Regions from separate parts of the Homo sapiens genome. Here regions 1 and 2 are each linked to region 3. The links come from fine-mapping of genetic effects on gene expression. A gene starts in region 3. Each other region holds a variant in brackets. All regions are shown on one strand. Distances are between the middles of the regions. Region 1 overlaps ATF6 (activating transcription factor 6). Region 2 has its middle 2.5 kb from the start of TRE-TTC4-2. Region 3 holds the start of ATF6 (activating transcription factor 6).

What was found. PIP is the estimated chance that this variant, and not a neighbour inherited with it, causes the effect.
Region 1: its variant is the best candidate, but not a certain one, in a credible set for the expression of ATF6 in whole blood (INTERVAL, PIP 0.86).
Region 2: its variant is the best candidate, but not a certain one, in a credible set for the expression of ATF6 in whole blood (TOPMed, PIP 0.79).

Annotation. Positions count from the first base shown.
Region 1 is chr1:161,933,468-161,937,709 of GRCh38, reverse strand. The region is part of intron 15 of ATF6 (activating transcription factor 6); the gene reads right to left. Among named protein-coding and RNA genes, the nearest start is that of OLFML2B, 88 kb to the left of the region's middle. The variant G/A (reference allele first, on the strand shown) is at 1,721.
Region 2 is chr1:161,417,549-161,421,790 of GRCh38, reverse strand. It overlaps the pseudogene COMMD6P1 and the pseudogene TRUND-NNN3-1. Among named protein-coding and RNA genes, the nearest start is that of TRE-TTC4-2, 2.5 kb to the left of the region's middle. The variant T/C (reference allele first, on the strand shown) is at 1,721.
Region 3 is chr1:161,764,023-161,768,264 of GRCh38, reverse strand. It overlaps ATF6 (activating transcription factor 6), which reads right to left and starts at 1,945. Exons shown (of 16, transcript NM_007348.4): 1 at 1,823-1,945. The coding sequence starts at 1,904. ATF6-DT (ATF6 divergent transcript) reads left to right here and starts at 2,118. Exons shown (of 3, transcript NR_187280.1): 1 at 2,118-2,435; 2 at 2,764-2,841; 3 at 4,108-4,242. It overlaps LOC124904444 (a long non-coding RNA gene), which reads right to left and starts at 1,816. Exons shown (of 2, transcript XR_007066695.1): 1 at 1,459-1,816. RefSeq lists enhancers at 1,938-2,017, 2,048-2,127, 3,667-3,836.

The DNA.
Region 1 (4,242 bases), 170 kb before region 3:
CCTGTGTCCGTGTGTTCTCATTGTTCAACTCCCACTTATGAGTGAGAACATGCAGTGTTCGGTTTTCTGTTCCTGGGTTAGTTTGCTGAGAATGATGGTTTCCAGCTTCATCCACGTCCCTGCAAAGTCCTTTGTCTTTTTATAAGAGCAGTAATTCCATTCATGAGGGCTCTGCCTTCATGACCTAATCACCCCCATAAAGGCTGATTTTCATATCATTACATTAGTGAAGAGATTTCAACATACGAATTTTAATGGGACACAAATATTCCAACAGAGATGAATTATTTATGGTAATTATGGTGTTGAAGTAACCAGAGATAAAAGGCATTAAGGTGATTTTTTTTTTTTTTTTTTTTTTTAACTGAGAGGGAGTCTCACTCTGTCGCCCAGGCTGGAGTGCAGTGGCACAATCTCTGCTTACTGCAACCTCCGCTGCCTGGGTTCACGTGATTCTCCCAACTCAGCCTCCCGAGTAGCAGGGACTGACTACAGGCATGCCTCACCACACCTGGCCAATTTTTGTATTTTTAGTAGGAGTGACATAATTTAAGTCTTAACAGGTTCATTCTAGCGTCAATATTTTAAAAAGACTAAAGAATGTAAGGGTAAATACAGAAAATGTTAGGAATCTATTTCTGATGATTTGGTCCAAAGTGGTAGTGCAAGAAGGTAAGAAGTAAGAAAGGTATGACTCAGGATGCATTGTGAAGTAGAGTTTGCTGAGGGATTAGATATGGGATGTGGGAGGAAACAAAATGGGTCAAGGATGACTGCAAGGAAGGTTTTTGGCTGTGCAATGTGAAGGACGGATATGCTTCACTGTGACTAGGATGAGAAGACTACAGGAGAAGGTTGAGGGTGGAAATCAGTTTGGTTAAGTGTGAACTGACAGGAATCATCTAAGTGAAGATATTTAACAGGCAGTTGGTTACATGCATTTGGAGTTCAGGGATTAGAGTGGGTTTGGAGGTATAAATTTCCCTTCCTGTTAAATATTTATAAAAATGTGAGTGTGGATATTAAACACATGCTGATTAAGTGCATAGCCAAGTGACTTACTGTCATAGTTAGGGTCCCAAAACAGCTTCATAGGTAAGAAGAAAACGAGCAAACTCCAACAAGATGAAATTTAATATGTCAAAATGTAAAATCCCATACAAATATATGATGAGAGAGATAGGGTAGAACAGAGACATGTTTGAAAAACATCTGTAACATTTTAAAATAACTTAAAGAGTGTAATAATTGGATTGTTTGCAACTCAATGGATAAATCCTTGAAGGGATGGATACTGCATTCTTCATGATGTAATTATTTCATGTTGCACACCTGTATCAAAACATGTCACATACCCCATAAATATATACACCTACTATGTACCCACAAAAATTAAAAATTAAAAAAAATTAAAAAGAAAAACATCTGTAGGTTTTAGTCAAGTGTAAGTTTGACAAGTCAAAGGTGAAATATAACTGCTCCTCAAATTCATGCCAACTAAGGTTGTGTTAAGAACACAACAAAAAAGGTGATAGTTCCATTCTCACCTGCTAATTAACACACCAGTAGCGTTGTGTTCCATTCTGAGTTGCTTCGAACCTAAACCATAAGGGAGCAAATGAAGAAACTGTATTTCTATGAGCAGATGTGGAGAAGATGTGGGATACAAAATGGCCATCTTCAAAGACCTGGTAGCCTACCACGTGAAGACGGCATTAAG[G/A]CTTTTTCTCTGAGGCCTAAAAATACTGAATTAGAACCAATAATTGAAAAGCACAGATTCTGGAGCAGTAACAGAAAGAAATTTCTAACATTTATAACTGTCTGAAAAAGGAATGGAATATAATCAATTCCGTTTCTTTAGAAATGCTCGAGCATTGCCACTCTTTACTGAGAACCTATTATGAATGCTTTCATATGCTGGACCTATTATATTACTAGGCACTTTATAGAATATATTAAATCATTCTTTCCTACAGTCTCATATGAGAAAATTACAACAGAGAAAAGTGAGCAAATATTATGTTGGTGCAAAAGTAGCTGTGATTTTTGCCATTAAAATGGCGAAAACAGCAATTACATTTGCACTAACCTAATAATACAGCTAAGGAAAAGATGGGATTACACTTGTCTCTGTCTGTTCAGGCTGCTGTGACAAACTGTATAGACAGGATGGCTTATAAAAACCAGAAATTTATTCCTCACAGTCTGGAGGCTGAGAAGAACTAGATCAAAGCACTGGCAGATTTAATGTCTGGTGAGGGTTTGCTTCCTGGTTCACAGATATTCATCTTCTCACTGTGTCTTCAAATGGCAGAAGGGGTGAGGAAGCTCTCCAGGGCCTATTTTATGAGAGCACTAATCCCATGCATGAAGCCTCTGACCTCATACCAAAGGCTCCATATCACAGTATGGTAGGGATTTCAACATATAAATTTTGGGAGGCTACAAACGCTTAGTTTACAGGAACATCTATACCTACCTATCTCAAAAGTCCATGATTACATACGAGTCTATCTCTCTGTCTGTCTCTCTCTGCATTCCCTGGATATTTTCAAGTGTGTAAAGAGGATTAGGGCATTCTTATTAACAACATGGAATAAAAAATATTCCACCTAGTTTATAAGTACTTGCTAATCTAAAGAGCTTTGTGACAATGTTGTACCAATTACTGAAACCCATTTGCATCTGTCTTTCTTTACAACTGAGTGCAGAACCTACTAGATTTCCCTATAAAACCAGATTATCTGTAATGAAAGGTCACTTGAATCAAGGGTAGGCAGAGAAGTAATTCTGTTTTGGGGAGGAAACTTCTTGGGAATGGTTATCACAATGGATGATACCCCAAGAACAAAGCAGACAATGTGAAAGTTGGTCATGACTCTTCCCCTGTTTCTAGGAAAACATGGGTTACCTTAGGAACATGGATTTAATGCTCTCAGTGGTAGAATGATCTTACTCCATGGAAAACAATGCATTTATAACATGCTAAGTGCCATGAAAACATATCTGTTCTTTCCATAAGCATATGTAAAATACAGGGGAAAAAATCACTAGCTTAAAAACAAGAGGAAAAACAATTAGAAGGGAGTTTAGAAGAAGCAGAAACACCCAAATGGTAACTACTACGGAAGAAACTTACATTTGAACCCAGGATCCTTAGAATTATGAGACTTTACATAGAGGGAGTTGGATTGGGAAAGAATGTGGTACAGCCAACAGAAGCTTTGCCAGCACCACTAGGAAACATCTAGGATTGGAAGGAGTCTCAGGCACAACAGCACACAGCTGCTATGTCACTTTGAAGCACTCACTCCTTCCTCTTGCAGAGCCCCTACTGCATTGTGGTTTCTAGTCCTAAAACCTAACCATTTCCTGCTAATTCTTTGGTGCTTCTTATTTTTTTCAAACTTTTCTTTAAAAAGTTTTGGTTCTGAAATGGCTCTGTTAGAGGAGGATGGAGGAAGGTGGCAACAATTTACCGGCATCACAAATCCGAGGGAAGACCTGGTTTTGGGAGAATGTTTGTGTAGCTTTACTCATGCCCAAGGTGGTCATAACTGGATCATTATCAATTCACACCTGAATGAATGTGAAAGTTCCTAATTGTGGCCCCCACTCATCCATGTCTAATCCAGCCTGTTTACGTACAAGTTATCTTGTACACTGTCATGAGATTAATCTTTTCAACTATCATTTTTATTGTGTCTCTTGCTTTTTGATGGTCCCTGCTGTATTGTGAAGAGTGCTGGTGGGATGCTTCTTTATGGTAGTGATGCTGGAGCAGAGAAGTAAATGAAGTGAAGCGAGCCATGTAACGATCTGGGTAAGAGGTTTTCAGGAAGATGGAAAAGCCCTGAGGCATGCATGAGCATCAACATGGGGAGGAGCAAGAAAAACTGTGCTGGAGTGGAAGGTTAAGGGAGATGGCAATAGGAAATGAAACTGGAAACATAGACAGAGATTGACTGAGCTATGGGAGGCCAAAATTAGGAGTGCAGACTTTTATTATGAGTGTAACTCATGATGAGTTAGAAGAGTAATTCAATAAGCCTTGCTGAATAAATGAATTAAAGTCCATTCAGGATCACCTATTTTGTTAAATTAGGGTTGACTTCTAAAGTATGATTTAAGGAGAAAAAATATTCTTTTGCATGTTGTACATGTTCAAATTAAAATCATCTTTACATTGGCCAAAGTTTTCCAATACTAAAATTCAATAGCAATCTTTATAAGTCAAGGGGA
Region 2 (4,242 bases), 350 kb after region 3:
CAAACGAATTAAGAGAGGTTTTCCATGTTTCAAATATGCAAATTAGCATAACGGACTAGTTTGTTTTCCGATTTGGAACACCTGTTACCAGAGGAAACAGTAGCGCATCTGGTAAAATAACCTGGGCATCTACTACATCTCTGAAATGTAAACAAACCGCCCTTAGGGTTTAAATGAGAACTCGGCAGGAGGTCGGGGAGGGAGAATTACATTTATTCTTAAAACTGTGCCTATGCCAATTCATCAGACCTTTCTAGATTTAGAAGACATTTGAAATAACTCACTTGTTTCATGTAAAAATTACTTATATTGATTTTTAAAAATCAAGCCGGGAGCGTTGGCTCCCAGCACTTTGGGAGGCGGGCGGATCACGAGGTCAAAGATCGAGACCATCCTGGCCAACATGGTAAAACCCAGTCTCTACTAAAAATACAAAAATAAAAATACAAAAATTAGCTGGGCGTGGTGGTGCGGGCCTGTAGCCCCAGCTACTCGGAAGGCTGAGCTGTAGTCCCAGCTACTCCTTGAACTCGGGAGACGGAGGTTGCAATGAGCTGAAAGCGCACGACTGCACTCCAGCCTGGCGACAGAGCGAGACTCAGCCCCCAAGAAGTAAAAATAAAAATCAGTAATTCTCAATAGAGTGGGGCTGAGGTGAGTCTGAATCTGCCTACCTTTTTACTCCATACAGGCAGTCCCCATTCCCTGGATACTGATGTACAGGATGTCAGTAGTGCCTTGCAGAGAGGCGTGCCTGCAAGCAAACCTTAACTGCTCCGGAGGGCAGTGACAGCCGCAGCCACGGCGATAATAGAATGCGTGTGATCAAGAAAGCAAAGAAGCAAACTTTCCTAACCGGGAATTGAACCTGGGCGCTGGCAGTTAAAGCACTAGAATCCTAGCCACTAGACCACCAGGGAGAGACAGCTTAGTTACCTGGGCAGCACCTTTTGGAAAAATACCTTAGGACTGACGCTTTAACCACTGCAAGCGTAGGTTATAAACTTTTAGGAGTGTCTGGAAAATGTTCTTAAAATTTCAAATAATTAGCCGGCCAGGCGCGGCGGCTCACGCCTGCAGTCCCAGCACTTTGGGAGACCGAGGTGGGCAGATCACCTGAGGTCAGGAGTTCAAGACCAGCCTGGCCAACATGGTGAAACCCCGTTTCTACTAAAAATATAAAAAATTAACCAGGCATGGTGGCGGGCACCTGTAATCCCAGCTACTCCGGAGGCTGAGGCAGGAGAATCATTTGAACCCGGGAAGTGGAGGTTGCAGTGAGTCGAGATTGTGTCATTGCACTCCAGCCTGGGCAACAAGAGCAAAACTCTGTCTCGGAAAAAAAAAAAAATCATGCTAATTATTTAAATTCTTAATTTTTCTTTACATAGAATGACAAATAAGAGCAAATAAAAAGCCCCATCATAGGAAGGACTATGGAAGAAAGGAAAAAGCTTTATAGTTCACTACTCTTCACAGCACTTTTCTTGCTGCTTTTTTCAGAAGAGGTTGCATTTTCACTTTGCACTAGACCCGACAATTTATGTAGCTGATGCTGGTACCAGAAGGTAAGATCAGTTTCCTGGGGTACATTTTTGGTATAGTGGTTAAGGCTTTTTTCTCAAACTTCCCAGTGGGAGTTTAAGTCTTGGTTTTGTCCTTCATTTTTCTTCCTTCCCACTATTAAGCTCCTGTTGCTGTGGCCATCAAGATTTTCTAT[T/C]GTTCTGGGGCTCAAGCAGACAAGGAACCCAAGAACACCCAGGCCACACCTTCCACCCAGGAGTCCAGCTGGGCCCTATGCCCAAATGATTGCTTTTTCTCTTTGCCCACTCCATCAAGGGTGACAGCTTCTTCCTAGTCAATTCTTTGCCATGGTCTCACTCCCCGCCTTCCTCAATCCAGAATCTGAGCAGGAAACGAATCTGGTCAAAGCACGTGGTTGGATTTTCGTGACCCAGTGCTTCCAAAAGGCCAAACCTCACCTCTGCTCCACCTGCCCCCACTCTTGGATCCAGCAGCCTCACACTTCCCAGGCCTCTGCCCTGACATCTGCCTCCCTAGAAGGATGAAGAGCAGTAGCGCCTGGAATTCCAACCATCTGCCACAGTCTTGCATGGCACAGGTGAGTTTTGTGGGAGATGGGGTGGGGTGGAGAGTAGACAACGTTTCTGGCATTTTCACAAATGGCCACTCTGATGCTGGCCTCTCGCTCTGTCCTGCCAGCAAAGGGTCAGACTAGGTGGTGGCCTGGGAGCAAATGGGGCATGAGCAATCAATGCTTCCTACCTATCTGGGCCCAGTGTAAAAGTGGGCAGTTAGAGGAGATGTTGTTGACTTTAGATTCATCTCCTTCCTCATTAGCATAGTTGGTGAGTATTCCCTTCTGTCCTGACAGATCTGGATTTGATCCCCCTGCCATTTAACTAATTTGTTACCACTTCACTTTTGTTTATACATTTTATTTCCTGGCTTACAATTAACCAATTCGTTACCATATAGATATATGGTTTTTATTTTACAAAAAAATCTAAACGGATTATGAGTTTACAAGCTCAGTAAAGTATTGGCTGGCTCTGGACTTCCCTAATAAGCCACATTAAACACCTGGTGACAGCTGCCAATGCAAAGGTCAAGGGCTGCTAATACCGGACTGCCTAGAACTCCATGATTTTAACTACTTTCAGGATTTCAAAGTGGGGGAAAGTTTTATTAATTACTAATACTATGACTGTGCTAATCCACCCATTCTAGATTTAGAATATTCCTGAGAGACTGCATGTTTCCGTGGCAAAATTAAACGTACTCAGGAGGCCAAGGCAGGAGGATCGCTTGACCCCAGGAGTTTGAGAGCAGACTGGGTAGCATAGCATAACATCTCTTAAAAAAAGAAAAAGAAGAAGAAATAGAGAAAAAATTAAACACAAGTATACATTAGTGATTCTCAACATGGGTGGGCCTAGTCCCCTTAAGGAGCATTTCAGAATTCCTCAGTGGACATCAGCCTTCGCGCAGCCTCCCTACCCATCAGGTGCTGATGAGGTTAGCAACCAGATGTTTGGCCTCCCCATTTGCTTCCCTTGAGAATTGTGGCTAGCGATATTAGGAGCTCACTACCATTCTTAATTTACCCCTTTGAGTAAACGATCAACATTTTTCTTTTAAACATGTATTTCAGGCCGGGTGCAGTGGCTCATGCCTGTAATCCCAGCACTTTGGGAGGCTGAGGCAGGCAGATCACTTGAGGTCAGGAGTTCCAGACCAGCTTGGCCAACATGGTGAAACCCCATCTCCACTAAAAATACAAAAATTAGCCAGGCATGGTGGTGCATGCCTGTAATCCCAGCTACTTGGGAGGCTGAGGCAGGAAAATCACTTGAACCCGGGAGGCAGAGGTTGCAGTTAGCTGAGATCATGCCACTGCACCCCAGCCTGGGTGACAGAGCAAGACTCTGCCTCAAAAAATAAACAAATAAATAAATAAATATATATATATATATATGTATGTATGTATGTATGTATTTCAGAAAGAAGAAATGATACTGGACTACAGAAGCATTACTGAGATGCTGTGGTCATCAGGCCAAGGGTCGTGGATGGGAATCTGTGGGGAGGCATTCCCCCATGCCCACAGTCCCCTCACTCTTTAGCCAGAGTATTGTTAGGTTTGGTTCTTGACCAAGGTCTCAGGCTCAACTCGTGTGTGTGCTTCAATATGGGTTGGTTCCTTCCTCCCTTCCTTCCTTCCTACCTCCCTCCCTCCCTTCTCTTTCTTTCTGTATTGAGGCCAGAGTCTCACTCATTGCCCAGGCTGGAGTGCAATGGTGTGATCTCGGCTCACTGCAACCTGCGCCTCCCGGGTTCAAGCGATTCTTCTGCCTGAGCCTCCAGAGTAGCTGGGATTACAGGCACCCACCACCACGCCCGGCTAATTTTGTATTTTAGTAGAGACAGGGTTTCACCATGTTGGTCAGGTTGGTCTCAAACTCCTGACCTCAGCTGATTCACTCGCCTCAGCCTCCCAAAGTGCTGGGATTACAGGTGTGAGTCACAGTGCCCAGCCTATTGATCTGTCTTTGAATTCACTAATCTTGTCTCCTGCTGTGTCCAATTTGCTGTTAAACCCATTCAGAGGGTTCTGTTCTAGAAGTTTTTGTCTCTATTCCAATTCTCTGTTGAAATTCTTCTCATCTACTTTCCATCTTTTCCTCTATTTTTTAAAAATAAAATTGTGATTATTTTAAA
Region 3 (4,242 bases):
TTAAGTCAAGTGATCAGATAAGTCTGGAAAATGCAGCCTGGGTATCAGAAGACGACATAAAATTATGCTACCAGGAAGTGTCCCACAGTTATACTTTAAGAAATGTCACTGGCCGGGCACAGTGGCTCACACCCGTAATCCCAGCACTTTGGGAGGCCGAGGTGGGCGGATCACCTGAGGTCCAGAGCTCCAGACCAGCCTAACCAACATGGAGAAACCTCGTCTCTACTAAAAATACAAAATTAGCCGGGCGTGGTGGTGCATGCCTGTAATCCCAGCTACTCGGGAGGCTGAGGCAGGAGAATCGCTCAAACCCGAGTGGCGGAGGTTGCGGTGAGCCAAGATTGCGCCATTACACTCTAGCCTGGGCAACAAAAGCGAAACTCCATCTCAAAAAAAGAGGTAAAGAAAAGAAATGTCATGAAAATATAATAGCTGACTAGCTGACAAAATAAATCATAACTACCCAATATATTCAAGTAGTCTTATTAATAACCAGGGATCTTAGGAAGAATAAAATCTGTAGACATGAGTTAGGAAAGCATTATAGAATAGATGCTAGGGGTACAGACTTTGGAGGTAGAAAAACCTGGTCTGATCCTTCTTCTGCCACTAACTAGCTCTAAGAATCTGAGCACAAATTCTGTTAGCCTCAGTTTCCTCATCTCTAAAATAAACAGTACCTCATTGGACTGTTGGTAGGATTAAACAAAATACTTCATGTCAAGAGTTTAACAGGGTCCCTGACACAAAGAGCTAAATAAATGGTTACTGTCACTAATGCATTTGGCTTGGGAAAATGGGAATAAAAAATCTTAAGTTTTCCAGCAACTCTTAAAAAATCTACCCAAGGATTAAAATAAATCTCCAATAGAATATAGTTTTAGAGAACATCTGTCCTTGAAACAATTAAATGACTTTGTTCAATAAAAAGTTGAGATTCCTTCCACTCCTGCTATTGAGAATGCTGATCCAAGGGAGAAAGATAAACTGGGTTCCCCCCAGTTCCAAGGCTGATGAGTGGTGTAGGCTCACTAGCGGGCCCATTTGGGAACCTACACAATCCCAAATTCATATTGGAACCTAAGAACAATATTACTATTATATCTTGCAATCAAGAGGAGAATAAAAGTCTCCTCTAAATACTTAGATAACAAAGTTTCTTCATTCTCATTTCCACTTCATCCCATTCCACCCTTCCTGACCACCAAAACCAAACAAAATATCCATTAACAAGAAAATTAAGAGCTGTATCTGGAGAGCAGTCAGGATTACACCATAAGTATTAGGTGTAGCTAAGCAGGGACCCGAGGTCAGGTGCTTGGGTGTTTTGCTTTTCTGCCAAGACGGACATCAGGCTTAAACCAATAGTAAAAGCTGTAAGATTAGAATTTCTTGTATATAACCACATTCTCTCATATACACCAAACACACAAAAACCCACTCCATTGTGCTCACCGCCCACATTTCACACTCAGGAAATAGCTTGTAGCCTTTTTGGCGGTCCCAGCCATTTTGCTCTAAACCTCCTAAAGACGTCCAGTGTTAGCCACACAAAAAGATCACCCGGTACTTCCCCAGTGGGAATAGTGAAAAACGACAGTTAACTCCAGTTAGACAATATTCTACTCTCCCTGTGGCCAGGACAGAAGCCGAACGATACTCCCAGACTCTTCCAGGGGCACGAACAGGAGTGACGAGGGGCCTCACTCCCCAGGCAGGGTTGGTCCACACCTGTCACCACGAGTGGGCGGAAGTAGGGAGGAAGAAACCTTTAGACGCGAACCCGAGCCACCCTGGTACATTCTCAGATCCCACTCACCCCAATCTTCATCCAGCCTGTGAAAGAGTCCCGGGCTAAAAGGTGACTCCATGGTGCCGGCAACCCCAGCCGGCTCCCCCATTTCACAAGTTCCTTCTCCCTGGAACTCCGTGATTAATATCTGGGACGGCGGCGGCAGGCGGACAAAATACTCCGTAACGCTGACGAGACGGTGGCCTAGTAAAGACAAACTACTTTTGCCGCACGAGGGATTTGTACGACACAGGAAAACGTCAGAGACTAAGCAAATTTGAATAGACCTCTGAGTAAATATTTCCCTTTTGGAGTTTTCAGGACTTTCTGTCCCGCTGTTTTATGGGGAAGGCGGGGGAAGACACGCAGACATCAATTCGACTAAACAAAGTTTATCAATAATATTAAAAATAAAAAGTAAAGCCCCTTTCTGAACATTATGGCTTATTCCTTGATTATCCTTCTTAATGCCACAGCGTGGCTATCTCAGAACAAAATTAGAGACTAACAGTAAATTTACTTTAATTTTTACGAATAATTCTCTATCAATGTAAAAATTTTTCATATACGCGTGTATGAAAGAAAAACACTACTATTTTTCCACATTCGTGAAAACTGCTTAACTGGGACAGTAACCGAGGTAAGTGGTACTATAAAACATACTTCTAGAAAGACTACTTTTATTTAAATAAATTGAAACAAAGCAAATATAAAAAGATAAACCCCCCAAATTTATCTCCTAAAGATAAATTTCTAAAGCATAGTATTTAGTCAAAGTCCAAGCGAGTCTACCCTAAGACCTACAGTAATCGAAGTTCCCAATATTTGTATTACTAAAGATTCGGGTTTTATTTAAAGGAAAATCACATACATCACGAACTCCAACTGAAAATATGAACTGAGTTTGATAAAGCAGTTTCAAGAACGCTACTTAAGAGAATTTCTTTTTCATCCATTTTAAATTTCAGCGGCCAGTGAATATTTAAAATACTGTAACCGACGAATACGTATGCTTCTAGGACCACGTGGAATCTTTCCCATGGTAGGTAAGCAAAACAAATGTGCTTCCCAGAACCCTCCAAACTGCTCGTGGGTATATTACTACAGATTACATAATGCAGCAGCGTTCCGGGACGCAAGCCCAGAAAAAGATAATTAAATCCCCTTACGTCAGATGTAACTACTTTTGTCATTAGAAAACTAATAAATTTTCACTTAAGGTGAAATTTATAACACTTTAATTCTCACCCAATTACAAATTCAAAAATTGACATAAAAAACTAAAATAAGGCCGGGCGCGGTGGCTCACGCCTGTAATCCCAGCACTTTGGGAGGCCGAGGCGGGCGGATCACGAGGTCAGGAGTTCGAGACCAGCCTGGCCAACATAGTGAAACCCTGTCTCCACTAAAAATACAAAAAGTTAGCCAGGCGTGGTGGCGGGCAAGTAGCTGTAATCCCAGCTACTCGGGAGGCTGAGGCAGGAGAATCGCATGAACGCGGGAGGCAGAGGTTGCAGCGAGCGGAGATCGCACCACTGCACACCAGCCTGGTCGACATTGCGAGACTGCGTCTCAAAAAAAAAAAAAAAAAAAAAACCTAAAATAAAATAAAATCATCGAGTCTTCTGTATCCCACTAGACACCTTAGTCTTTTAAGAAAATCACCATGACAAATCGCCAATTTTTTTAATTTCCAAAAGATTTTATTTTTATTCAAAAAGTGCAAGTAATTATGAAACAAACATTTGTGACCTATCACCAAGAATTTAAAAATTTAACATTTTTCATTTTTGTCCCAGATTTTTCATAAGAAATTAAATACTACAGAATTGAATTCCTCTTTCCTCCCTGCTTCATTTTCCTCCCTTGGCGTAGGCCACTTCTACCATGAATTTTATGGGTATAAAATTTTATTTTATAAAAATAAAAGTGTAATTCTAGTCCACTTTTATTTTTAGTTTTACGGTGCTTAAACATGTTTATAGACACATGCATTTAGTGTCATTTGGGTTTTTTTAATGTATGTAAACTTTAATGTTCTCCAAATCATTTTTCTTATTGGATATTAAGGATCTACCCATGGTATTTCCTTGAATGAATCTCAATTTCTCTCTCTCTCTCCCTCTTTTTTTTTTTTTTTTTTTTTTTGAGACAGGGGCTCACTTTGTCCCCTAGGCTGGATTGCAGTGGAGCCATCTCAGCTCACTGCAGCTTGACCTCCCAGGTTTAAGCGATCCTCATGCCTCTCCCCACAATAGCTGAGACTACGGGAACCCACCACCACACCCGACTAATTTTTGTATTTTTTGTAGAGACAGGATTTCACCATGTTGCCCAGGCTGGTCTCAAAACTTCTGAATTCAAGCAGTCCGCCCGCCTCTGCCTCCCAAACTGTTGAGATTACAGGCGTGAGCCACCGCACCCAGCCTCAAGAATGTCTTAAATAA